Linked DNA regions of Homo sapiens. The protein of the gene in region 1 interacts with the protein of each later gene in a pairwise test. Each region holds a gene or a part of one and is shown on either strand. Other genes may lie near its edges. The genes, in order: FKBP7, TARS2, FARS2, TMEM54, NFU1, STX7 and TMEM229B.

Region 1 (3,500 bases):
AACCAGCATTATTGCTGGGAATGGAAATCATTCAACTTCTCTATCAACTGTTATCAAAAGTGAAAATGCAGGCCCGGGTGTGGTGGCTCATGCCTGTAATTCCAGCACTTTGGGAGGCTGAAGTGGGCAGATCACTTCAGGTCAGGAGTTCGAGACCAGTCTGGCCAATATGGTGAAACCCCGTCTCCACTAAAAATACAAAAATTAGCTGGGTGTGGTAGAGTGTGCCTGTAATCCCAGCTACTTGGGAGGCTGAGGCAGGAGAATCGCTCGAACCTGGGAGGCAGAGGTTGCAGTGAGCCAAGATTGCGCCACTGCACTCCAGCCTGGGCAACAGAGCGAGACTCCATCTCAAAAAAAAAAGTGAAAATGCACGTGCCTTCTTATCCAATAGTTCCATTTCCAGGAATGTGCACAAAGGTATATGTAAAAGAACATTCACTGCAGGCATTTTTGGGTGGGAGGGTGGCAAAAGGTTGGAAACCACCTGCCTATCCATCAATAGGAAATTAGTTAAATAAATTATAGTATATCTATACAATGAATTACTGTGTAACCAGTAAAAAGAATGAAGTAGAGCTATACTTATTAATATGTTAAAAATAAAGTGGAGGCCAGGCATGGTGGCTTCATGCCTATAATCCCAGCACTTTGAGAGGCTAAGGTGGGAGGATCACTTGAGCCCAGGAGTCTGAAAGCAGCCTGGGCAATGTAGGGAGACACAATCTCTACAGAAAATTAAAAAGTTAGCCAGGCGTGGCGGTATCCGCCTGTGGTCCCAACTACTCAGGGGGCTGAGATGGGAGGATCCCTGGAGCCTGGGAGGTCGAGGCTGCGGTGAGCTGTGATTGTGCCACTGCACTCCAATCTGGGCAACACAGCAAGACCCTGGCTCAAAAAAAAAAGTGGACAAGACTATATTCCACTTTTGGGATATATATTGAGCATCAGTGCCAGGCTTTGTTCTAGGCACTGGGCATAAAGCAGTGACCAAAGTAGACACTACTCCCAATCCTCTATGAGCTTTCATTTCAGAGGAGGAGTTTCACATATGCATGTATCTACACAGAATACATCTGGAAGAATATGCAGTCATCTGATGACATTAAGTGTTCCTGGGAAGGAGGCCTCAGGGTCAAGGATGAGAAGATTTCTTTTCACTCTAACATTTTGTACCATTTGAAAGTTTTATAAGGCATGTATTAATTTTTCCAAAATTAAAATTTTAAATTACAAAAATTGCATGTAGCAGAACAGAGAAGAAAATTTTTAAAGCAGGCAGGAGGATGGGCAGCCTGATAGGCTGTACCTTGCATCCTTAGTTAGGTTCTTGCTCCGTGTTGCTGCTTGAAGGCTATACAGAAAGAATCTTTGCCTCCTTACCCTATTTAGAGCCACTGCTGACTCCACCGGTTTGAAATAGTAAAGATTAATTTTCCACAATGAGATATTGGCATTGCTCCCAAATATTTCATGGAAGTGGCATGCCTTCTTTGAGGCAGTTGTCTTAGTCATTAAGAGTTCTTTCCAGCAAAATCGGGGCATCAGTGCCCCACACTGGATTGGCGGGTGGTGGGGGGGTGTCAGTGCTTTGAGTCAGACCCAGTCAGGCTTAAAACTCCTAAAGAGACAATTTCCAGATAACTTCAGCTTTATTTTTAATGCTTTTTGCCAATAATTTGATCCCATCAGAACAGCTCCCATGGTACCATAATTCATATATCCTGTTTTTATTTGTATAGGAACCTAGGAGAAAGAGAAGGAAAATTGAAAATAAATTAAGTCAAATGCAATACTTGTGCTAAAAATGTTGTCAAAAGTTGAGGCCACTTCTAGGCAAAATGTTGGAGGCAGAGTTTGCCTTTCAGTCTCTTTCTCATTTTCAAAGTTTTCCTTTCTGTCTTGCGTTGTGTCTTCAGATGCCTCCACATTCTGCCTACCACTAGAGCACCCACTCTCCTATCTGCCTAGAGCACACACATCTGTCATCATCAGGTGCTCATCCAGGGTTCACCGCCATCAGGCAAAGGACCACTTAGCTTATCTTTTTCATAAACTAATTTATGCTTAGATATGAATGACTACCCAGGCTGCCTAAGCTCTTAATAAATCAGAAACTTGCTGCAGAGATATAGAAGTTTGATGTGAAACAAGTTCATATTCAATTGGAGGTATCTCTAACAAACATTAAAGTGATTAATCTCACTAGTAATACCACCAGCACCCTCATTTTACAGAGTAAGAAACTGAGGCCCAAAAAAAGTGTTAATTGGACCATAGTTAATACTGACCTTGCCTGCGTTACATTAGGCATTGTAATCCAATACCTTGGATTACATTATTTTAAAAGTTGCAGTGTAGACCTTAAGTAACTGTTTAACAAACAACCTCTTGATTAAATAAGCATTTAAAAGTAAGTTGTTATTAAGACCTAACATTAGCTATAACTTTATTTTAGGTAGTACTTGAAGAAGTCTTTCTTCTGCAAAATATCCTTGTCTCATGTCACAGAACAACCCTGCATGTCTTGAAATGCATGTGACTTGTTAGTGCTTAAATAACAATACATGCGGTATGTATATATTCTTTACCTTAATTCCTACTTCTTTGATCTGCTTCTCTAAATATAAGTAATTCCGTAGCAAATGCATATTTTCCTCATTTTTATACTTTAGTTTTTTTTAAAAAAAAAAAAAAAACAAGAAAAAGAGGTAATTGGCAATATATCCTTTTTTTTTTTTTTTTTTTTGAGATGGAGTCTTGCTCTGTCACCCAGATTGGAGCGCAGTGGTGTGATTGATCTTGGCTCACTGCAGCCTCTGCCTCCCGGGTTCAAGCTATTCTCCTGCCTCAGCCTCCGAGGAGCTGGGATTACAGGCACACGCCACCATGCCTGGCTAATTTTTGTATTTTTAGTAGAGATGGGGTTTCGCCATGTTGGCCAGGCTGGTCTCGAACTCCTGGCCAGCCAGGCTGATCTCGCCCTCCTGGCCAGGCGCAGTGGTATAAGCCAAATAAGAATTGCTTGAACCTGGGAGGCAGAGGTTACAGTGAGCCGAGATCGCGCCATTGCACTCTAGCCTGGGTGACAGAGGAAGATTCTTGTCTAAAAAAAAAAAGTGGTATAAGCCACTGCGCCCGGCCAATATTTTCTATGTTTATAGCAAAATTGTTCAAAAACTGCATATGTACCTACAATATTTTTTCTTAAGAAATTCAAGTTTTGGGCTGGGCACAGTGGCGTATAGCTGTAATCCTAGCACTTTGGGAGGCCGAGGTGGGTGGCTCACCTGAGGCTAGGAGTTCAAGACCAGCCTGGCCAACATAGTGAAACCCCGTATCTACTAAAAATACAAAAAATAGCTGGGTGTGGTGGCTTGTGCCTGTAATCCCAGCTACTTGGGAGGCTGAAACACAAGAATCACTTGAACTCGGGAGGTGGAGGTTGCAGTGAGCCAAGATCGCGACACTGCACTACAGCCTGGGCAACAGAACAGATT
Region 2 (3,500 bases), on another chromosome or scaffold:
TTGTGGTTGCAATCAGCATGGCCTGAGGGCCCAGGAAGATCACACAGCTGACACCCTACCTGCTTTCCTTCCAGTTACTCTGACCTTCCATGTCTGTACCCTCCTCTCCAGGCTGAGTATGCCCATCGTGGTTTCTCCGAGGTGAAAACTCCCACACTGTTTTCTACGAAGCTCTGGGAACAGTCAGGGCACTGGGAGCATTATCAGGAAGACATGTTTGCCGTGCAGCCCCCAGGCTCTGACAGGCCTCCCAGCTCCCAGAGTGACGATTCTACCAGGCATATCACAGATACACTCGCCCTCAAGCCTATGAACTGCCCTGCACACTGGTAAGCTGGGAGCTAGGGTTACAATCAGGTTGCTAAATATTAAATAATAGAAAGCACCTTGGGGCCGGGCACGGTGGCTCACGCCTGTAATCCCAACACTTTGGGAGGCCGAGGCGGGCGGATCACCTGAGGTCGGGAGTTTGAGACCAGCCTGACCAACATGGAGAAACCCTGTCTCTACTAAAAATACAAAAAATTAGCCGGGCACGGTGGCGGGCGCCTGTAGTCCCAGCTACTCAGGAGGCTGAGGCAGGCTAATGGCGTGAACCCAGGAGGTGGAGCTTGCAGTGAGCCGAGATCGCGCCACTGCACTCCAGCCTGGGTGACACAGCGAGACTCCATCTCAAAAAAAAAAAAAAAAAGAAAGCACCTTGGAAAGAGTATTGGGACACCGATTTGAGCCTACAGTCTTCCCCCTAGCTAACCATGTAAATTTGGGAAACTCATTTTACCTCTTTAGGTCTCAGTCTCCTTAAAGTTGCTATCTAAGGCTCCTCCTTCAGCTCAGTGACCATCACAGAACAGGGAAATGGTAAACGATGTCTGTTATTGTGTTACTGAGAAATCCACTTTTGAACCTCAGGGCTCAGACTGTGATGAGTGGGATTGACAGGACTCAGTGGGAGGATGTGCTGAGGCTGGAGAGGGTTATAGCAGATGGTGCAGAGAAAGTAGGCAAGCAGATTGGGTGGAGGAGCAGTCTTCGGGGGCTAGTCCTCCCTATGGCCCTGACCCCTCTGCACCCCAACCTCAGCCTGATGTTCGCCCACCGGCCCAGATCCTGGCGGGAACTGCCCCTGCGACTAGCTGACTTTGGGGCTCTACACCGGGCCGAAGCCTCTGGTGGTCTGGGGGGACTGACCCGACTGCGGTGCTTCCAGCAGGATGACGCTCACATCTTCTGTACAACAGATCAGGTGGCCTTTCCCTGGCTCCACCAAAGCTTTTCTAAACCACCTTTCTTTCTCCCTATGAACCTGCAAACCCCTGATCTTTATTTGCCCCCTGTATGTACTATAATTCAGCTACATTCTACCCCCAGCTTGCTTCCGCTTCCTCTCTGTTTTTGCCCTTTGTTTTCCTCAAACTGCCAGCATCCCTGATCTCTAGCGGGCTCACAGCTCACTGACCCTTATTTCCTGCCCCTAGCTGGAAGCAGAGATCCAAAGCTGTCTTGATTTCCTCCGTTCCGTCTATGCCGTTCTTGGCTTCTCCTTCCGCCTGGCACTGTCCACCCGGCCATCTGGCTTCCTGGGGGACCCTTGCCTTTGGGACCAGGCCGAACAGGTGAGTAGGAGGTAGAGAAATAGAGGCAGATAAACCACTCTCTGGTGGGAAGGAGTGGAGAATACAGTAATCAAGGTTCTCAGAGGCATCTGGTGAGTGGGTCATTTGTTGGGGACTGACCGGATGTGTTGCTTTTGAAGTCTAAGATGATGTATTCCACTCTTGTCTCATTCCTTCAAAGGTCCTTAAACAGGCCCTGAAGGAATTTGGAGAACCCTGGGACCTCAACTCTGGAGATGGTGCCTTCTATGGACCTAAGGTAAGCTTGGGACCCTGGTTAGTGTTGTATTTATTTATTTTTTGCTTTGTTTTAGTAAATATTTAATAGATACAAAGAATTTTTTTTTTTGAGACAGTCTCACTCTGTCACCCAGGCTAAAATGCAGTGGTGTGATCTCAGCTCACTGCAACCTCCAGCTCCCTGGTTCAAGCAATTCCCCTGCCTCAGCCTCCCGAGTAGCTGGGATTACAGGTGTACGCCACCACACCCGGCTAATTTTTTTGTATTTTTAATAGAGATGGGGTTTCGCCATGTTGGCCAGACTGGTCTCGAACTCCTGACCTCAGGCAATCCACCCCACTTGGCCTCCCAAAGTGCTGGGATTACAGGCGTGAGCCACCGCACCCGGCCACAAAGAAATATTTTTAAACTTACGTAGGATATAAAGAAAAACAATATACTTTCTGCCCTCTTGGCATCTGCAATCTAGTGAGGGCTGCTGAAGGTAAATAGGCCATATCAGTGCTGCGAGATCTGTGCTGTGTAGGTACCAAGAGAGCACGTTAGCTGGGGTTAGCATTACTCGGGGAGGTTACAAAAGGTGTCCTGCAGGAATCACTTTCCAATCTGAAAGGTGAGTGTTGGCCAAGTAAAGATGTGTTTCAGGAGGGAACAGTGTAGGCAGAGGCTGGGGATAAGGATGAAAACACATGGCAGACCAATCTGGGCAACACAGGGAGACCCTGTGTCTACCAAAAAAAAAAAAAAAAATTAGCCGGGTGCAGTAGCTTGTGCCTGTGGTCCCAGCTACCCAGCAGGCTGAGATGGGAGGATCACCTGGTCCCAGGAGGTAGAGGCTGCAGTGAGCCGAGATTGCGCCCCACTGCACTCCAGCCTGGGTGATAGAGTGAGACCCTGTCTCAAAAAAAAAGAAGCCAAGGGGAAAAAAGGACTGAAAAGTGTCCACTGGATTTAGTAAAAAGGCTGCTGGATTTCAAAGGACCATTTTCAGTAAAGTAGGGCCTGAGGGTGGAGTTAGAAGATGAATAAATGAGGCCTGTGTGGTGGCTCACGCCTGTAATCCCAGCACTTTGGGAGGCCGACGTGGGTGGATCACTTGAGGTCAGGAGTTCGAGACCAGCCTGGCCAACGTGGCGAAACCCCATCTCTACTAAAAATATAAAAATTGGCCGGGTGAGGTGTTAGGACACACCTGTAGTCCCAACTACTCAGTAGCCTGAGGCAGGAGAATCGCTGAACCTGGGAAGTTGCAGTGAGCCAAGATCACACCACTGCACCCTAGCCTGGGCAACAGAGCAAGACTCCGTCCCAAAAAGTAAAAATAAAACAGGCTGGGGGCGGTGGCTCACGCCTATAATCCCAGCACTTTGGGAGGCTGAGGCAGGTGGATCACCTGAGGTCAGGGGTTTGAGACCCTGTCTCTACTAAAAATACAAAAATTAGCCCAGCGTGGTGACAGGCACCTGTAAACCCAGGAGGCGGAGGTTGCAGTGAGCCGAGGTCGCACCACTGCACTCCAGCCTGGGCGACAGAGTGAGGCTCCATCTCAGAAAAATAATAATAAAATGAAAAATAAAATAAATGCTATGATGAGAGGAAGTCTATTTGGAGGGAGAAGTTGTTGTAAAGGGAAGTTCCTGGAG
Region 3 (3,500 bases), on another chromosome or scaffold:
AATCAAATAAAAAAATATAACTCTGGCAAGATTGCTCTAGTGAACTTTGTTCCTTTTACAAAAAATAATTCCCCTTTATCTCTAGGAGCTAGGCAACTGGTTCAAGACCAAAAGAATCCTATCTTCTCCCTGGTCACAGTTATTGGTTCAGAAATGGATGAGGACATGACACAAGGAGGGCCAGTGACATGAACGGAGAGGACTGCTGAGCACTCTTGGTCCAGAAGCTCTCTCACTCCTCTAAGGTTTTGGAAACAAGCGCCCCCAAACTGTTGATGGTTTCCCATAACCGAGAGAGAGGACTCTGGCCAGACGATAAAATTTACGTTAGAGAAGACAAAGTAGAGAAAAGCACAAAATTGAATCTTTGGCAACATCACTCAAACCAATCAACCCTAAAGCCCATCTGGCTTCTGAACCCTCAAGACACAGGAGACAATAAAGCCACTAGGTTTGTTTAAAACAATTTGACTTCAGTTACTTGCAATGGCAGTCACTCTAAGCTGAAGAGCAATTCACCATACTAAGGGAGCTTAACAGAGGAAGATGTACTCAAGTTAGAGAAGGTAGCTTTGAGTAAGCATCTCTTAAACTGAGATCAGAAGAATAATTAGCAAGGGAAGGAAGGGCACTCCAGGCAGCTGGATCAGCATTTGCAAAGGTCCCCAGGGTAGAGGGGAAAGAGGTGAGTACTAAAGAATGAAAAGCAGCAAGCGAAAAATAAAAAGGTATGACATGGGACTGGAGAAGTGGGTAAGCGCCATAGTCGTCAGGGTCTCATAGGCTGTGTTAAGGAATTAGACTTCATCCTAAAAGTGCTGCAGGTTTTTGGAGAGAAGGTGATATAAAAATTACTGTCTATAGTGTGGTGACATTAATTCATATATATCTAAGGAACATACCTGACCACCAGTACTATAATGAACATTTCATTTTCAAATAGCTTTCAAGACAACAGAAAAATTTCAGCAAACACTGTAACTTGACACACGTGGAATCTCTTCTACAAAGTTAACAGAAGGGCATCCAGACAGCTTGACAGCTCTAGCGAACCACACTTATGTCCTGAAACGTATTAATCTGGGATAGTTTACTTGGAAATTATTTGAAGACCTGGGCTCTACAAATGAAAGCTGACTGTAATTATCATCCAGCCCAGCTCTCACAGTACGCAGAAGCCAAGGGTGTAAGTGGGATTCCTAACAGGGCTTAATGTTATGAATGCCCAGGCACATGTGCTTGTCTCAAAGTGCTCCAAGACTTGAAATAAATAACAATGTGCTTATCTCAGAACGTCAAGAAACAGGAAAGAAAGTATGCTGCCTGCTAAGCTTTTTCTATTTCATGACTGCTTCATTTTACTTTCCCTTTGCACTGCAGAATTCCAGGAATTGATTTAAAAAAAGATAATTCTCCCAAAAAACTCATCTTCATTAACTGAAACTAACTGTTTTACTCTCTGCCAATATTACTGTAATCCATTTCACAGAAGCCAGGCTTTTATAACTCTTAAATATTGTTAGTTAACTCAAACTCACAATTACACATACAGATTACAAGTTTGCCAGGCTGAAGTGCTTCAATTGTGCTCAGAAAATAAATGTTTACATTAAAACGTTATAAAATATTAAATCATGTAATTCACTATAATACCAAAGAAATCATGAATTCTCTGTATATCTTCTATTGTTAATAACAGTCTACAGTATACTATCAACGATATGTATCGACCCATCCTCTGAGAGATCAGTTAACATCACAGATCTCAGTATTGCACATCTTAAGACACTGACCTAGTATTTTTCCAGTGATTAGCAAAATGTAGGCTGTTTTTTGTAAACAGACTCAACACTGCAAATTCTAAATGTTTTCTGTAAACAACCTACTGACCTGAACAAACAAGAGATGGCGGCTAATACACTCATTCGAAGAAGTCAATCAGAACTTCAAATATGTCACTAGAAAAATTACTAAAATGAGATACTGCTAAACAGCAATGAAAGGACTCTTCTTTTCTCTTTTTTTTTTTTTGGTTATTTTCATTTTTTTTTTTATTATACTTTAAGTTCTAGGGTACATGTGCACAAGGTGCAGGTTTGTTACATATGTACACATGTGCCATGCTGGCATTAGGTATATCTCCTAATGCTATCCCTCCCCCCTCCCCCAACCCCACCACAGGCCCCGGTGTGCGATGTTCCCCATCCTGTGTCCAAGTGTTCTCGTTGTTCAATTCCCACCTATGAGTGAGAACATGCGGTGTTTGGTTTTCTGTCCTTGCGATAGTTTGCTCAGAATGATGGTTTCCAGCTTCATCCATGTCCCTACAAAGGGCATGAACTCATCCGTTTTTATGGCTGCATAGTATTCCATGGTGTATATGTGCCACATTTTCTTAATCCAGTCTATCATTGATGGACATTTGGGTTGGTTCCAAGTCTTTGCTATTGTGAACAGTGCTGCAATAAACACATGTGTGCATGTGTCTTTACAGAGCATAATTTATAATCCTTTGGGTATATACCCAGTAATGAGATTGCCGGGTGAAATGGTATTTCTAGTTCTAATACCTAGGAATCCAACCTACAAGGGATGTGAAGGACCTCTTCAAGGAGAACTACAAACCACTGCTCAATGAAATAAAAGAGGACACAAACAAATGGAAGAACATTCCATGCTCATGGATAGGAAGAATCAATATCGTGAAAATGGCCATACTGCCCAAGGTAATTTATAGATTCAGTGCCATCCCCATCAAGCTACCAATGACTTTCTTCACAGAATTGGAAAAAACTACTTTAAAGTTCATATGACCCAAAAAAGAGCCCGCATTGCCAAGTCAATCCTAAGCAAAAAGAACAAAGCTAGAGGCATCACGCTACCTGACTTCAAACTATACTACCAGGCTACAATAACCAAAACAGCATGGTACTGTTACCAAAACAGAGATATAGATCAACGGAACAGAACAGAGCCCTCAGAAATAATACCACACATCTACAACCATCTGATCTTTAACAAACCTGACAAAAATAAGAAATGGGGAAAGGATTCCCTATTTAATAAATGGTGCTGGGAAAACTGGCTAGCCATATGTAGAAGCTGAAACTGGATCCCTTCCTTACACCTTATACAAAAATTAATGTGAGATGGATTAAAGACTTAAATGTTAGACCTAAAACCATAAAAACCCTAGAAGAAAACCTAGGCAATACCATTCAGGACATAGGCATGGGCAAGGACTTCGTGTCTAAAACACCAAAAGCAATGGCAACAAAAGCCAAAATTGACAAATGGGATCTAATTAAACTAAAGAGCTTCTGCACAGCAAAAGAAACTACCATCAGAGTGAACAGGCAACCTACAGAATGGGAGAAAATTTTTGCAATCTATCCATCTGACAAAGGGCTAATATCCAGAATCTACAAAGAACTTAAACAAATTTACAAGAAAAAAATCAAACAACCCCATCAAAAAGTGGGCGAAGGATATGAACAGAC
Region 4 (4,295 bases), on another chromosome or scaffold:
GTCTGCCCCTCAGTCAGGCCCCCTTACCCACCCACCAGCCCCAAGGCCCGACCCCTCCCCCAAAGGGGCAGTCCCCTTCTTGCAGGTCTCAGCTTGCGGGGTGGGGGGAGTCATGCCCAGGGGAGGAGACTTTTTATCTGGAGGGGAGAGAAGGATTCTAGGGGTGTGGAGTTGGAGAAAGAGGCTTCCTTGAGCCACCCTTCCCACCCCAGCCCTTGCTGGTCCCTAGGCCAAGCCACCAAGTGAAACCTTCCAGGATACTAGCCCGCCAGCTGTGGGCCCCAGAAAGCCAGCCTGCCTTTTAGCACTTGGATACACACAGACCCACGGAGCTCTCTGTGTTTGGCCTCTCACACACACACAGGCCCATAGACAGATGGGCAGATGCACCCAGAGCCCCATGCACAGTGTCCTGCGTGGGAAAGAGACACGGTCCCCCTGGCTGAGCCCCTGTCCTCCCCTCTGTCCCCCCAACCGCCCCCCCTGCATGCAGCCAAATGGAGCATCTCTGTTCTTTTTAATAATTTCAGAATAAAGTCTCATTTCAGTGCAGTGGGCTGGGTGGTGGGGGAGAGGGTTGAAAGCCCCACTTGGGTCCCCGAGGGTCCATTGAGCCCTCTCAGGCCAGCTCCAGGAATCCTGGCCTGGTCACAGAGCAGAGTTGCTTGCAGGGTCCTAGTGGCCATCGGGCCTGGGCAGGACATCATCTCTCAGAGGGTCAGAGGCTCAGAGCTGGTGCAGCTCAGCAGGTCACGGCCCTCCACCAGCTCTGGGTTCTCCCGCATCTGCAGAGACACAGGAGGCTGCCAGACCCACTGGTTCTCAGCCTGGGTCTCCTCCTCCAGGACATCCGGGAAATGGAAGGAGGTGAGGGCTGGAAGGCTCTCTGGGGGCAAAGGGGCATCACTACCCACTCCACTGCAAGAGCCAGGCCTGACCTTTGCAATGCCCTCAGTGCGAGCCCAGACACCCCTGCCCCTCCCTCAAGACTCATCCTGGGCCCTAGGAGAGCCAGGTGTCAGCTGTGTGACTCTGCTGGGAGATCTCACCTCTCCCAGCCTCCAGGCCTCTCCCTTTGCTCCTGGGGAGAAAACTTCTGCCCCATTTCTCAAGGTGGGGGCCCATACATAGGGGTGGGGCAGAGCAGCTTGGGCACCCTGGCAGGGGCTCCCAGGAAATTCGGGGAGTCAGGGCTGTGGAGGGAACTTACCATGTGGTGGCTGCTTTTCCCCCACCAGGGCCTCAGCTCCAGCAGCTGGTGGGTGAGCTGAGCACAGCGTACAGCAAACACGTTCTCCGCCACGCAGAGCACTAGGGCGATGCCCCAGAGGCACAGGCTGGAGCTCTGCGGGGCATGGGGCAGAGATGGCTGGCTGGAGTTGGGGGTGGAGGGTGGATTCCAAGAGCCCTTCCCACCCGTGCGAGGGCCTGGTGCCCCTACTCCAGGCCTAGGTACTCACATAAATGCGTGTGGGGTCGAAGGGACAGTCAGGTGCGAGGGCCAGTAGTTCAGAGCTCCCAAAAGTGCAGGCAGCCAGCAGTGCCTTGCCCTGGGTGGCAAAGGTCATGGCGATGGAGGCCAAGAGGCCGAGGGCACAGGTCAGAGAAAGGAGAGCACAGGCCACGCTCGAGCTAAACACTGTCCAGCGCTGGACGGGGGAGGCCACTGGTCAATGGGCGTCGTGCTTGGCCCCCATGGGCAGCTCTGGCCTCCCTGAGGGTCAGCCTTACCCTCTCCAAGGAGGCCAGGCCCTTGGCGGGTGGCTGCTGCCCCTACCCTTCCCTCACAGCCCCATCCCAGGAGGCACCACGTACCAGGGGGGTGCTAGGGAGGTAGCGTGACAACACGATGGCTGCGATGCCTGAAGTGATGACCTGTAGGGAAGGCTCAAGTCAGCCCTGACTCCTTGGCTGGAGGAACAGGGGCAGGGGGATCAGGGCCACTCTGGGATAATGATCTCACCGGCGCCAACCATTGCCCTCCAGACTCCCCCACCCCTCACCTGCTGCTTAGCCTGGGCCTCACATCTCCATCTGCCTCCTCATAGTCCAGCCTGACATGATGTTTCTAAAACAGTCACTCCCTCTCTACAACCTTCCATGAGTCCCCACTCCTAAGCCTGTGTCTCAAGCAGGTTCATGTATCCTGGGGCCACCGGGGCATGCCAGGGTATGCATGGGACACCCCTTTCTGGAATGAAAAAGATTGTGGAAGAAACTAACCCAGTTAGCAAGGAACTAAAATCAAAATTGTTACATTGAAACAAACCAAGACATGTTATGGAGTAGAATTTTAAATCTCTGGGAGTATTTTCAATGATTCCAGGCTCTCAGTGACCAGATCCCAGCCCCAACCCTGTTGGCTTCTCAGCCCTACCTGGGCTACCTTCCTCCCTCACTGCTCTGGATGTGGATGCCCATACACAGCCTGCTCAGGACACTGCCCATGCACCCTCTCACCTTCCTGCTCCTCTGCCCGTGTGGATCCTGCAAGCCCTGCTCAGGTTTGCACACGTTTCCCTAACCAGCCTCGATCCCAAGGGGTGGGGCTACCCCACAGTTCAGCCCAACAGCTGCCCTCTGGATCTTTGGGGTCCACCCAGCCAGCCTTCCTCCTGATGTTCCTCACTGGACCAGGCTTGGGCCGGACCCATCTGAGGCAGGTGGTATGACGGGGTCCTGGGTTCCAGGCCTAGCATGTCTTTAGTTCACATGAGAGCCACAACAGAGTGCCTCATCTCTGTGGGCTTAGCCCCACTCTGCAGGATGAGCTGACAGAAAGGACACTGGTTTTGGTGTCAGACACAAATAGTTTCCAATCTGGTTTGGCTTCTGTGTATCAGCAGGAGGTTGGGTGAATCCCTGAGTCTTGGTTTCCTCTTTTGTGAAACAGGTATAATAATGGCCCCCAGTTGCTGGGAGAAGTGAGGATTAACCGAGTAAGTGAGGGGAAGGCTGAAGTGGTCCAGCTCAAAGTCCATCCTGGTGGACCTCCTCGCCCTGAGCTCACTGCCTTCCCTGCCTTCCTCACAACAGTATTAGAGGAACTCCAAGGACCCTGCACACATCCGCCCATCCCAGCCCTGTCCCACCAACAGAGCCTCTCTTTCTTGCTGGGACCTATGACTCCCATTCTCCCAAGCCTTGAGGCCAGCAGGCTGTCTGAGCTTTATTTTGCAAGGGAGGAACAGGCCTAGAGAGAGAAATAAGTCCCTCAGCCAGGAGAAGGCAGGGATGGAACTCAGACACTGATGTGCGGGAGGATCTTCCCCCGAGGCTGTGGCCACTTGTGCTGACCGGCAAGAAAGAGCTTTAGAAACTTGAGACTACCAGACCCCTCCATTCATGTGCTAGTCAAACAGGTACTGATATCTGGTCACAACCGTGGCTACCATTCATTGAGCAGTTGCTACAGACCGGGCCTAATGCTAAGCTCCTGCCAAATTGGTTTTCTCAGAATCTCCAGAACAGATCTTAGTCATTTCCACCTCCAACCTTCCCGTCTCCCATTCTCTGTACTCGGAATGCCATCTCAGCTTCCTTTCCTGCCTATGCTAGCCTCAGCATGCCAATATGTAGGTTCTGGTCATGGCAGCCTGTCTGTGAACTCCTGCTCATCCATCAATACCCAGGTCAGAGGCCTGCACTCTGTGAAACCCTCCGGCACCCTCCCAAGCTCACCTCCTGCTCCTTTCTTCTGTCCAGTGGTGCTGTGGCTATTCCTCGATGTAATAATCATCCTAGCTCACAGTAGTGGGTGCTAACAACATGCCATGCCAGACACTCTGCTAAGCACTTTGTGTGGATGATCTCATCAGTACCCATTAGGACCCTCAGAGGTAAACACTGTTACCATCTCCATTTGATAGATGAAGAAGTTGAGTGACTTGGGCAGTTGGTAAGTGGCAGACAAAGGGTTAGTCCTTGAGGCTGTCTGCTTACCACCACAGGCTCTGGGTGGGGACCTGTTGAAGACCCTTCAAGCCCCCTCCAGCCTCCTCCCACCAACCACCCTCCCAGCCTGGCCATACCACGATGGCGGAAGTGACAGAGAGGATGTTGACCACGCAGTACTGCAGAGCCACCGCATCTTGAGGGGTGCCCACGTAGCGCAGCACTGTGCCATGGAACAGGGCAGCTGTGATGAAGCTCACATGGCCCAGCACCACCAGCACCAGGCCTGTCTTCATCAGCACCTTCCGGAAGTCGCCCACACTCAGGCCTCCTGTGGGGGACAGCTATGTCAGGGCTGTGCGTGGGGCTTATCCTGCTGGGCAGAAGGGGAAGCTGAGGCC
Region 5 (3,500 bases), about 110 Mb from region 1:
AACACATATAGGTATACATTTACATACATACACACATGCAGACACACATACCCTCTCCCCTTAAACTTCCCTAACTCTACATTACAGTCATCACACTTCAAATTATTTTAAATCATATCTATTTCCCAAATTAAAGAAAATTAAAGTATATATCTCGTTAACAATCAAGATTATTAACAAAACCATAGTAATTAATTTTGACAAAAAAGCTTTTCTTTCTTTTTTTTGAATGTAGTTTTTTACTACATTCAAAATCCTGTGTTCTAAGGTCTGGATGAAAGCCAGAAATTTACTAATTTTAAGGGTATTCTTATCCAAAAAAAGGACAGCAGTAGCTTTAAATACATAGAATTCTTTGAAACACAATCCCCATTTGAAACTTCTTTTTGAGACAGGGTCCCACTTTGTCACCCAGGCTGGAGCACAGTGGTGTGATCACGGCTCACTGCAAGCTTGAACTCCTGGGCTAAAGGGATTCTCCCACCTCAGCCTCCCAAGCAGCTGGGACTACACGTGTGCGCCACCATGCCCAGCTAATTTTTTGTATTTTTTGTAGAGACAGGGTTTTGCTGTGTTGCCCAGGCTGGTCTCAAACTCCTGGGCTCAAGCGATCAACCTGCCTCAGCCTCTCAAAGTACTGGGATTACAGGCATGAGCCACCACACCCAGTCAGATTTTAACTTCTACAGTATTTTCATTTTGGAAATCATTTATTGAGCAACTCTTGTGTTGCAGGGGATATGTTATACAACATACTGAGATTTCATAGATCTATTGGACAATATCCTTGCAAATACATTTTCTACTTAGAAGCCTATAAGAAAAATATAGCTTTTTTTCCTATATTCTATCTATAGGCTTCTAAATAGAAAATATACAAATTCTCATCTTTTATGATCCACAAAATCCTAGCACAGTTCCATCAGTTTCTGAAACACAACTGCTATAAAAGAGGTGAAATTTTACCTGGGTGATAAAAGGCTGCAGGTAGTGGGAAAAGTGGTCTTTGTACAAACTGATGCAGAGGCTGTTTCTTAATGGTGTATGGATTCTTCAACATATGACAGAACCTGCATTTAAAAGCACATAATGAATGACATTTTAAGAGCTCTAATCTTTTAAAGTTGGTTTCTACTTCTCATGTATAAAAAAGACCTATGTAAAATTTAAACATAACCCGCAATAGAAATAATTAGAGAACTGACTTTTCATCTTCCATCTACATTATTTCCACTTACTTAGGCAAGCAATATCTACAAACAATTCAAAATCAGGTAGAGCTCAAATGGAAATTCCTACCCTTGATAACCGGGTGTGCACAGGATAATATAACATTGAGGTATAAGAAACAGAATTGGGCTGGGTGAGGTGGCTCACGCCTGTAATCCCAGCATTTTGGGAGGCCGAGGCAGGTGGATCACGTGAGGTTGGGAGTTCAAGACCAGCCTGACCAACATGGAGAAACCCCATCTCTACTAAAAATACAAAATTAGCCGGGCATGGTGGCACATGCCTGTAATCCCAGCTACTCAGGAGGCTGAGGCAGGAGAATTGCTTGAACCCAGGAGGCAGAGGTTGCAGTGAGCCAACATCATGCCATTGCACTCCAGCCTGGGCAACAAGAGTGAAACTCTACCTCAAAAAAAAAAAGAAACAGAATTGTATCTACATTAGTAATTTATAACCCATAGTCCCAGACTCTTGGTTATACAGGAAGGAAGCAAATAACTATAAGCTTTTTTATTTTTTTAAAAAATTTAGAATTAGGCAATAGAGTCACATGGTTCAAAACTGGTAAGGGAAAAAAGCATAAATAGTGAAAGCCTCCCTCCTTTCCTGTCCCTTACGTTTCCCTCTCTCAAGATAACCTATATTACCTGTTTTGAAAAGTATTTCAATACTTCAAAAAATCTAAAAGAAAGTATACTATTGGGCCAGGGGTGGTGGCTCACGCCTGTAATGCCAGCACTTTGGGAGGCCAAGGCAGGTGGATCACCTGAGGTCAGGAGTTCGAGACGAGCCTGCCCAACATGGTGCAACTCCATCTCTACTAAAAATACAAAAAATAGCTGGGAGTGGTGGTGGGCGCCTGTAATCCCAGCTACTCGGGAGGCTGAGGCAGAGGAATCGCTTGAACCCAGGAGGCGTAGGTTGCAGTGAGCCGAGATCGTGCCACTGCACTCCAGCCTGGCCCAAAGAGCAAGACTCCATCTCCAAAAAAAAAAAAAAAAAAAGTATACGACTGTCCTTTTTGTTTTTGAGATGGAGTCTCACTGTTGTTGGCCCAGGCTGGAGTGCAATGGCACAATCTCGGCTCACTGCAACCTCCATCTCCCAGGTGCCAGCAATTCTGCTGCCTCAGCCTCCCGAGTAGCTGAGATTACAGGTGCCCGCCACCATGCCTGGCTAATTTTTGTACTTTTTAGTAGAGACAGGGTTTCACCATGTTGGCCAGGATGGTCTCGAACTCTTGACCTCAGGTGATCCTCCCGTATCGGCCTCCCAAAGTGCTGAGATTACAGGCATGAGACACCACACCTGGCCCGTCTTTTTTTTTTGAGACTGAGTCTCACTTTGTCGCCCACGCTGGAGTGCAGTGATGCGATCCCAGCTTACTGCAACCTCCACCTCCTGGGTTCAAGTGATTCTCTTGCCTCAGCCTCCCTAGTAGCTGGGATTACAGGTGTACACCATCACACCCGGCTAATTTTTATATTTTTAGTAGAGACAGGGTTTCACCACGTTGGCCAGGCTGATCTCCAACTCCTGACCTAAAGTGATCCACCTGCCTTGGCCTCCCAAAATGCTGGGATTACACAGCCAACGATCTTGATCACGCTTTTCGTGTTTTGTTTTGAGACAGGGTCTTGTTCTGTCACCCATGCTGGAGTACAATGGTGTGATCAGGGCTCACTGCAGCCTCAACATCCTAGGCTCAAGTGATTCTCCCACCTCAGCCTCCCAAGTAGGTGACACTACAGCTGTATGCCACCATGCCCAGCTAGTTTTTTTTTTTTTTTTTACTTCTGGTAGAGATGGATTACCACTATGTTGCTCAGGCTGATCTCCAGCTCCTGGCTCAAGTAATCCTCCCACTTTGGCCTCCCAAAGTGCTGGGATTATAGGCGTGAGCCACCATGCCCTGCCTTTTATATGCTTTTTGGATGGAAACATATTAACCCAGTGTTGTAACTTCACTTCACTTTTTTTTTTCTTTTTTTTTTTGTGAGACGGAGTCTTGCTCTGTCGCCCAGGATGGAGTGCAGTGGTGCGATCTTGGCTCACTGCAACCTCCGCCTCCTGGGTTCAAGCAATTCTCCGCCTCAGCCTCCCAAGTAGCTGGGATTATAGATGCCCACCACCATGCCCGGCTAATTTTTGTATTTTTAGTAGAGACAGGGTTTCACCATCTTGGCCAGGCTGGTCTTGAACTCCTGACCTCATGATCCACTAGCCTCGGCCTCCCAAAGTGCTGGGATTACAGGCGTGAGCCACAGCGC
Region 6 (3,500 bases), on another chromosome or scaffold:
AAAAAGCCAACTAGAATCTAGCTGTGAAGTTCAACTGAATTTGCGGTAGTTGGCTCTTTATTTAACCCTGAAGTTTTCACTTACTCCCCAATTACAGGGCCTTACAGATTAACTCTCAGTAACATTCTGATAGTATGTCAAATACTGTGCATATTTAACTTGAGGCAAAAGACCCATTATGCTGGATTTCTCACCTCAGGTTTTCACGCTGCTAAAAACTAGCTTATTATTTTGAGGCTATTTTAAAGTAATTCTTTTTCAGGCAAATAAAGCCTTATACTTTTAGCTAAGTAATAACTTCCATTAAATAAGCAGGGAAATAAATATGTGCCCCCAGGACACCTCACATCTTGAATGAGCCTGCATGTTCCACGCAGTCAGCCCCGGAAGGCCAGGAAATAATTACTCAGGAAGCATTTTCTGAGAACTAACTTAATTATGGGTCAGGGCAAATGCATGGAAATAATTTTTGCTTTATTGAACCACAGGATACTACCTGAGCAATTAAATATAGTTTTGTGTTCTGTGAACTAATCTCAAACAGAATTATTTTTGATTTCCTTTCTAGCATAATTTCCTTTCTAGCGTAACAGTTCAAAGATCCTACAGTGCACTGGGTTTTTTTCACATTCAATACATCAACAATGTGTCTTAAAGCTTGATACCTGTTCACTGGGGGTGGTGGGCAGAGATCCAAACTCTTTAATGTACTTATCTGTTTCTTTGGCAAGCTGGTTAGTATACTGCTGCTTCTGTTGCCTAAAGTGAGAAAACACGCATTACAGCCAAAGGACTAATATACTTCTTTAAGCTTCAACTCTGCCTTTTGAATCAACACTGATAAACAGTTGTACAAAAATTGCCTTTTCATAAACTGGCTCTCAACTTTCTCTATCAAAAAAAATTTCATATCCTATTCTTTGATAAATAATGAGCAAATATTATATGTCAGGTTCTTCACTCACACAGGGTAGGCAAGCTTAGAGAAATCAATTCAACGGCCATTTAGAAACACAGATGACTTGAATCAGAGGGAACCTGAAGGAGAGACTGTTAGATGTCTGATCCTTTATGTTTGAGATACTGGGGATGTGGAAGCCCTTTATCTGCATCTCACACCTGGAAGGTCAGGTAAGCAAGAAAAGATTTGTTACCTTAGACTTTGCCCAGTTCCCAGATCTAGTTATATCTGGCCTCTCTTATTTCTCTATGTGAACATGTATATGCTATAGATACTTAAAAAAAAGGCGGGGGGGAGGGGCCAGGCATGCTGGCTCACACCTGTCATCCCAACACTTTGAGAGGCCGAGGCAGGCGGATCACTTGAGGCCAGGAATTTGAGACGTGCCTGGCCAACATGGCGAAACCCCATCTCTACCAAAAATAACAAAAATTAGGTAGGTGTGGTGGAGCATGCCTGTGATCCCAGCTACTTGGGTGGCTGAGGCAGAAGAATCACTTGAACATGGGAGGTGGAGGATGCAATGAGCTGAGATTGCACCACTGCACTCCAGCCTGAGCAACAGAGGAAAACTCTTGTCTCAAAAAATAAAAATAAAAAGGAAAGAGGCAATATTGGTACAAATTTACTATTATTTAAGTTTACGCTGGAAAAAATAATGGCATTTCCTTGTAAAGGGAAAGAACACAATAAATAAAAGAAGTAAATTATAGTCATCCCTCAGTATCTGCAGATTGGTTCCAGGACCCCTGTGGATACCAAAATCCGCTGATGCTCAAGTCCCTGATATAAAAAGGTATAGCATTTGCATATAACCTATGCATATCCTCCCATATCTTTAAATCATCTCTAGATTATTTATAATACCCAATACAATAATGTAAATGCTATGTAAATAGTTGCTATATTTTATAGTTCAGTTTTTTTTTTTATTATTGTGTTGTTTTTTTTTTTTTCTTGAATATTTTTGACCTGCAGTTGGTTGAATCTGGGGATATATAATCTATGGATACAGAGTGCTGACTACATATCCATATTTTATCTAGCTATCTTATAAATTGAAAAGATTTCCAACTTAAAAACATGACACTAAAAAAAAGCTCATATTAATTGTGATGTTTTACAAATCACAACATCAGTACCTCTTATATATTTCATCTCATTTTAAATATGGTCTGGTCACACTTGGGGTCCTTTAAAATAATGAGATATTGTATAAGAATATGCTTAAGAATAGGGATCTGTATTTGACTGACAAAGGGTAATTAAAATCTATTTCTATCTCTATTTACCAAATACCCTATCTTTAATGCATTTTTGTAAATCTCTGGAAATCATAATATAGTCAAAGTTTTAAAAAGAAGACCTTAGGCTGGACATGGTGGCTCATGCCTGTAATCACAGCACTCTGGGAGGGTGAGGTGGGTGGACTGTCTGAGCCCAGAATTGAAGACCAGTGCCGGCAACATGGCAAAACACCATCTCTACAAAAAATACAAAAATTAGCCAGGCATGGTGGATGTGCCTGTATTCCCAGCTACACAGTAGGCTGAGGTGGGAGAATCGATTGAGCCTAGGAGGTCCAGGCTGCAGTGAACCGTGATAATGTCACTGCACTCCAGCCTGGGTGACAGCATGAGATCCTGTCTCAAAAAAAAAAAAAAAAAAAAAAAATCCTTAGTGACTACGGATATATATTCAGAATCTTCATTATTAACTCTATCAAAATATTAGAACTTTTATGAATTATGTACTTCTATTCCATTTTACTTTAGTTTAATGAATTGTGGTTTATTATTTAGATTTGGAGCATTTTTACCATTCTGACACTTACCCACTGTGGAAAAATAAAATATAAATTAGAGATAATTGTAAGTCCTTCAAATTGTACTTCCTAAAAATATGAATTCCTATTACCTATCTTTTAATATCGTCCTCTTTGCAGTTTTCCCTCTATAGTTAATGTTGTTTAGAAGTATTGCTTACTAGATATATGTGACTTGAAATTTACAGCTGTAACAGTACTGAAATAAAATTTAAGAGTTAAGTTCTAAATGACATTGGGTAACTCGTTAAACCCGTAAGAGACATGAACAAAATGGAAACAGTTCTTTTGGTCTATTTCTCTTACTCTAATTCTGTAAGGTTTAAATGATAAAATATGTAAAAATACTCTGTAAAATCCACAACATACCACAGACAAAATATTATCACTATGACTGCTGGTCTTCTAACAGCATATTAATTTACTGGAATATGTACTATATAATTCATTATAACTTTTTTTTAAACGGAAGCTAATGCTCTCTGAAATTCAAGGATGTAGGTATAAACTTGTGGGGAGACAGCTCACGTAGCTGGTTATGTATTGGATCTAAACCAAATAAAACTCTGGTGACTGCGGGGATTTTTAGCTATGGAAAGTAAATCACATAAATTGAGATACTAGAGTATAATTTTTCAACAGCTGTCAAAAACAACCTACCTAAAAACTGTAAGAAATGCAACTAAAGAAATTCTGCTTTGATAGGGTAAGCCT
Region 7 (3,500 bases), on another chromosome or scaffold:
GCCTTAAAAAATGACAATTGGCTGCTTTCCCAACCCCCAGAGGCCTGTCTGGCCTGAAGGCTGTTATGTCTGTGCAGGGCCCGTAGCCTGGTGGGATCAGAGGCCTGCAGGAAGGAAGCTCCCCAGAAGGCATGGCAGGCAGAGCTGGGCTTTTGCAATCTTGAACAGACAAGCTTTTTTTGGAGTTCCTAGGCTGGTCCATGGGAACCCAGAGCTTCAGATTCCATGCAGGAATTTGCAGGGAGTAGAAAAGGGGTAATCAGGTCTTTTTCCACTTTAGGTAGATCTTGACTCTCCTAGTTGACAGTTTATAATTCAGGGCCAGAATCTGTTTTCCACTCAGCCTGGGCTTACAAAGTCAGTTTGACTGGAGAGTTTCTCAGGAAGTGTGTTCTTGAGTTGATTTGTAGCCAGGGTGGTGTGAGCAAGCCTAGACTGTAGGAGGGGAGTTGGGGGTAAAGAGATGGCCATGGGTGCCTCTGTGGGAACGTCGTTCCTCAGATGGGAGGCACATCTCCCCAGAGCAATTTATGCCATCAGCCTTAAGGCTGTTGTACCGTTTGGTTCAGTGATTCTCCTTCTGGAATTATCCATTAAGATATATTATTAGGAAATAGTACCAGAGAAGAAAAGGGCTGAATTCTTCCATTACAGGCATTAAAGGTAATTCTCGTTATATCATCTGTAGTAGTAGAAATGGGAAACAACTGTTCCCTTTGGACATCTAGGTTAAGTAAATTACAGTTTTCCGCTTGCTGGAATATTACACAGCCATTATAATAATGAGCACAGAGGCTATATAACAACTTGGAAAAACAGTTATGACAAGTAAAAATGGCAGGTTGCAGAATAAGTATATTATGGTGACTTGTAAAATACACACATAGGAAAATATTGCAAAGGAGAAATGGTAATCGCTGTTAGTTCAGAATTATGAGTGCTTTTTCTTTTTTTTTCTTTATTAGAAATGAGGTCTCACTATGTTGCCCAGGCTGGTCTCAAACTCCTGGGCTCAAGCAGTCCTCCCGCCTCAGCCTCCCAAAATGCTGGGATTACAGGTGTGAGCCCCCATGCCCGGCCTATGAATGCTTCTTCTATGATGCATGGATTGGCTTTTTAAAAAATAAAATTGAATCCGGATGACTACACAACATACCATTAATAGTGACTTTCTCTAAGATGTGTGATTACAGGGAACTTTTGCTTTCTATGTCATTCTGTAATGTTTAAATTTCAGCTGTGAGCACATGTTGCTTTTATAATTAGAAAAAAAATTAAATGCTAGAATTAAATGTTTTAGAAGGCTATATTTCTCAAGAAAGGAGGGAAGAGAGACCGAGGCAGCTAGCTGTTTATACCTGCCCTCATCAGTGTTTAAGGGCCTGGGCCTGTTTGGGCCCACTCATCCATCCATTCATTCCACAAGTATTACTAGGTATTATTGCCAGGCACCACTCTAGGCACTGACTAAACAGCAGTGAACAAGACAGTGCCCCTGCTCTCATGAAGTTTTCATTCTAGTTGAGGAGAGACAGACCATAAATAAGTAGCAACATATCAGAAAGTGAAAGTGCTATGTAGAAAATAAAATGGAATGATGTGAGTGACAGAGAGGCTATTTTGGACTGGGGATCAAAAGTCCCTGAGATATGACAGCTCAGCTGAGATCTGAATGGTAACAGCAAGGCAGCCACATACAGGTCTGGGATGCCAGCCTGCCAGTCCCCCGTGCAGGGCATCCTTCGCTTTCTGAGCCCCAGGGACCTCTGTGCCAGAACTGACTCCATCCCCCAAGCCCACTCACCCTGCCCTGCCTCCTGCTGCGGTTTGCTTGGGATCTGAGGCCCCCTGAAATCCTCTGTGTTCGGACCGCTCCTCCTGACATGCTGGCTGTTGCTCCTCTGGGCAGCTGGCCCCTGCTCTTGGCTGGTGTCTCCATGGCAGGGCTGGGCCGGGCCATCTGAGACTCCCAGGAGCACTGGTGTGGGCTGGCAGTCAGGGGGCCTCTGGGTTGTGTGTGTCCTGGTGAGGGGCCTTTGAATGGCGCATGCCTTGGGGCCTGAGGGTTGGTTGCTGTCATGGTCCTGTGACTGTCAGCTTTGACCCTGGAGGGCCTCTGTGTGGATCCCGAGGAACAGGCTGGGAGCCTTTAGGAACTCTGACACCCAGTTGGGAAGTTTGTTAATGAACCACCTAGAAGTTCACAACCTTCTCCTTGCTTCCTGTTGTCTCTCCACATACCATCCCAGCCTTCCAGAAGCAGGAACTCAGAAAATGGTAGTGCCCTCAGAGGAGCCTGCAGTCAGCCTCGGGGGCAGTGCAGTGTGCTGATTAGGAGCAAAGACTCTGGAACCAGATTTGTGGGGTTTGAATCCCAGCCTTGCCTTTTATAGTTATTAGAATGTAGGCTCGGCCAGGTGTGGTGACTCGTGCCTATAATCCCAGCACTTTGGGAGGCCGAGGCAGGCAGATCACTTGAGGTCAGGAGTTCAAGACCAGCCTGGCCAACATGGTGAAACCTCGTCTTTACTAAAAATACAAAAATTAGCTGGGTGTGGTGGCAGGAACCTATAATCCCAGCCTCTTGGGAGGCTGAGGCATGAGAATTGCTTGAACCCGGGCGACAGAGGTTGCAGTGAGCCAAGTTCACACCACTGCACTACAGCCTGGGTGACAAAGTGAGACTCCATCTAAAAAAACAAAAAACAAACAAAAAAAGAACGTAGCCTCTTTCTGCCTCACTTTCCCCATCTGTAAAATGGGCTTGAGAATTTTTTGAGTTAATACATGGAAATACTGAGAAGAGCACCTGGTTATTATTATTACTGTGACTTGGGAGGTGGAGGGAGGACTTCATCAAGGCCTGCAGTATCACTAATCCCAGGGGCTTTCCTTGGGGGGCACCCACAGCAAGAGGGTGGAAGTCTGCAGCATGTGCACCAGCCAGTGGCTACAGGAGTTTCCCTCCACTTGCTTCCCTTCTGGCCCTGGGCAAGCCCTATTTTCCTCCCTGCTAACTTGATGACAACAGGGGAAGTTCAGGGAGGTTTCTGCCCTTTCCTCATTGAAGCCACTTATCTTCAGCACAGAGCCGCCCAAGGGCTCCTGAAGCTGTCCCCCGCTGCGTTGCCTCAGGGGTCTCCTAGAAGGGCTGTGGGTCTCCCCAGAACATGGAACTGTAGTGATGGGGGTGGCTGGGGATGGGGAGTGAAGCTTGGGAAGTGAGTGGAGTGAAAGCGGAAGGCCTTCCCAGCCCGGTTGCATGGGAGGGGAATCCCAATTTTCTGGCCAGATGCTTCTCTGGACAAAAATTCCCAGAGTCACTGTGTTGTGGCACCTTAGCCCCCTGAAACAAGATGGGAGTTTTTGACAAAACCAAGGGCAGTTATTCCATCTGGTTTTGCCTTCAGCCTGTCTTAGACTTTTATGGCAGCCTCTTTACCCCTCTCAACTGCTGGCCATGTCCCCTGCCACCCTGTGGAACAGCAGGCTCGGAGAGC

Evidence for each region.
Region 2: the proteins of FKBP7 (region 1) and TARS2 interact in binary tests that used the Homo sapiens proteins (3 or more experiments, as listed by UniProt).
Region 3: the proteins of FKBP7 (region 1) and FARS2 interact in binary tests that used the Homo sapiens proteins (3 or more experiments, as listed by UniProt).
Region 4: the proteins of FKBP7 (region 1) and TMEM54 interact in binary tests that used the Homo sapiens proteins (3 or more experiments, as listed by UniProt).
Region 5: the proteins of FKBP7 (region 1) and NFU1 interact in binary tests that used the Homo sapiens proteins (3 or more experiments, as listed by UniProt).
Region 6: the proteins of FKBP7 (region 1) and STX7 interact in binary tests that used the Homo sapiens proteins (3 or more experiments, as listed by UniProt).
Region 7: the proteins of FKBP7 (region 1) and TMEM229B interact in binary tests that used the Homo sapiens proteins (3 or more experiments, as listed by UniProt).

Annotation. Positions count from the first base shown.
Region 1 is NC_000002.12:178,472,101-178,475,600, reverse strand, and holds part of FKBP7 (peptidyl-prolyl cis-trans isomerase FKBP7 isoform a precursor), read left to right. Parts: intron 1-1,633; exon of another isoform or gene 1,634-1,746; intron 1,747-2,458; exon of another isoform or gene 2,459-2,572; intron 2,573-3,500. UniProt on the Homo sapiens protein: PPIases accelerate the folding of proteins during protein synthesis.
Region 2 is NC_000001.11:150,497,419-150,500,918, forward strand, and holds part of TARS2 (threonine--tRNA ligase, mitochondrial), read left to right. Parts: intron 1-111; coding exon 112-329; intron 330-1,083; coding exon 1,084-1,246; intron 1,247-1,478; coding exon 1,479-1,616; intron 1,617-1,797; coding exon 1,798-1,875; intron 1,876-3,500. UniProt on the Homo sapiens protein: Catalyzes the attachment of threonine to tRNA(Thr) in a two-step reaction: threonine is first activated by ATP to form Thr-AMP and then transferred to the acceptor end of tRNA(Thr). Also edits incorrectly charged tRNA(Thr) via its editing domain.
Region 3 is NC_000006.12:5,268,013-5,271,512, reverse strand, and holds part of FARS2 (phenylalanine--tRNA ligase, mitochondrial), read right to left. Parts: intron 1-3,500. UniProt on the Homo sapiens protein: Is responsible for the charging of tRNA(Phe) with phenylalanine in mitochondrial translation.
Region 4 is NC_000001.11:32,894,095-32,898,389, forward strand, and holds the end of TMEM54 (transmembrane protein 54), read right to left. Parts: intron 4,226-4,295; coding exon 4,032-4,225; intron 1,876-4,031; coding exon 1,816-1,875; intron 1,650-1,815; coding exon 1,461-1,649; intron 1,346-1,460; coding exon 1,211-1,345; intron 840-1,210; coding exon of another isoform or gene 786-839; coding exon 711-785; 3' UTR 501-710; downstream 1-500.
Region 5 is NC_000002.12:69,430,936-69,434,435, forward strand, and holds part of NFU1 (NFU1 iron-sulfur cluster scaffold homolog, mitochondrial), read right to left. Parts: intron 1,071-3,500; coding exon 967-1,070; intron 1-966. UniProt on the Homo sapiens protein: Iron-sulfur cluster scaffold protein which can assemble [4Fe-4S] clusters and deliver them to target proteins.
Region 6 is NC_000006.12:132,471,617-132,475,116, forward strand, and holds part of STX7 (syntaxin-7), read right to left. Parts: intron 760-3,500; coding exon 666-759; intron 1-665. UniProt on the Homo sapiens protein: May be involved in protein trafficking from the plasma membrane to the early endosome (EE) as well as in homotypic fusion of endocytic organelles. Mediates the endocytic trafficking from early endosomes to late endosomes and lysosomes.
Region 7 is NC_000014.9:67,482,222-67,485,721, reverse strand, and holds part of TMEM229B (transmembrane protein 229B), read left to right. Parts: intron 1-3,500.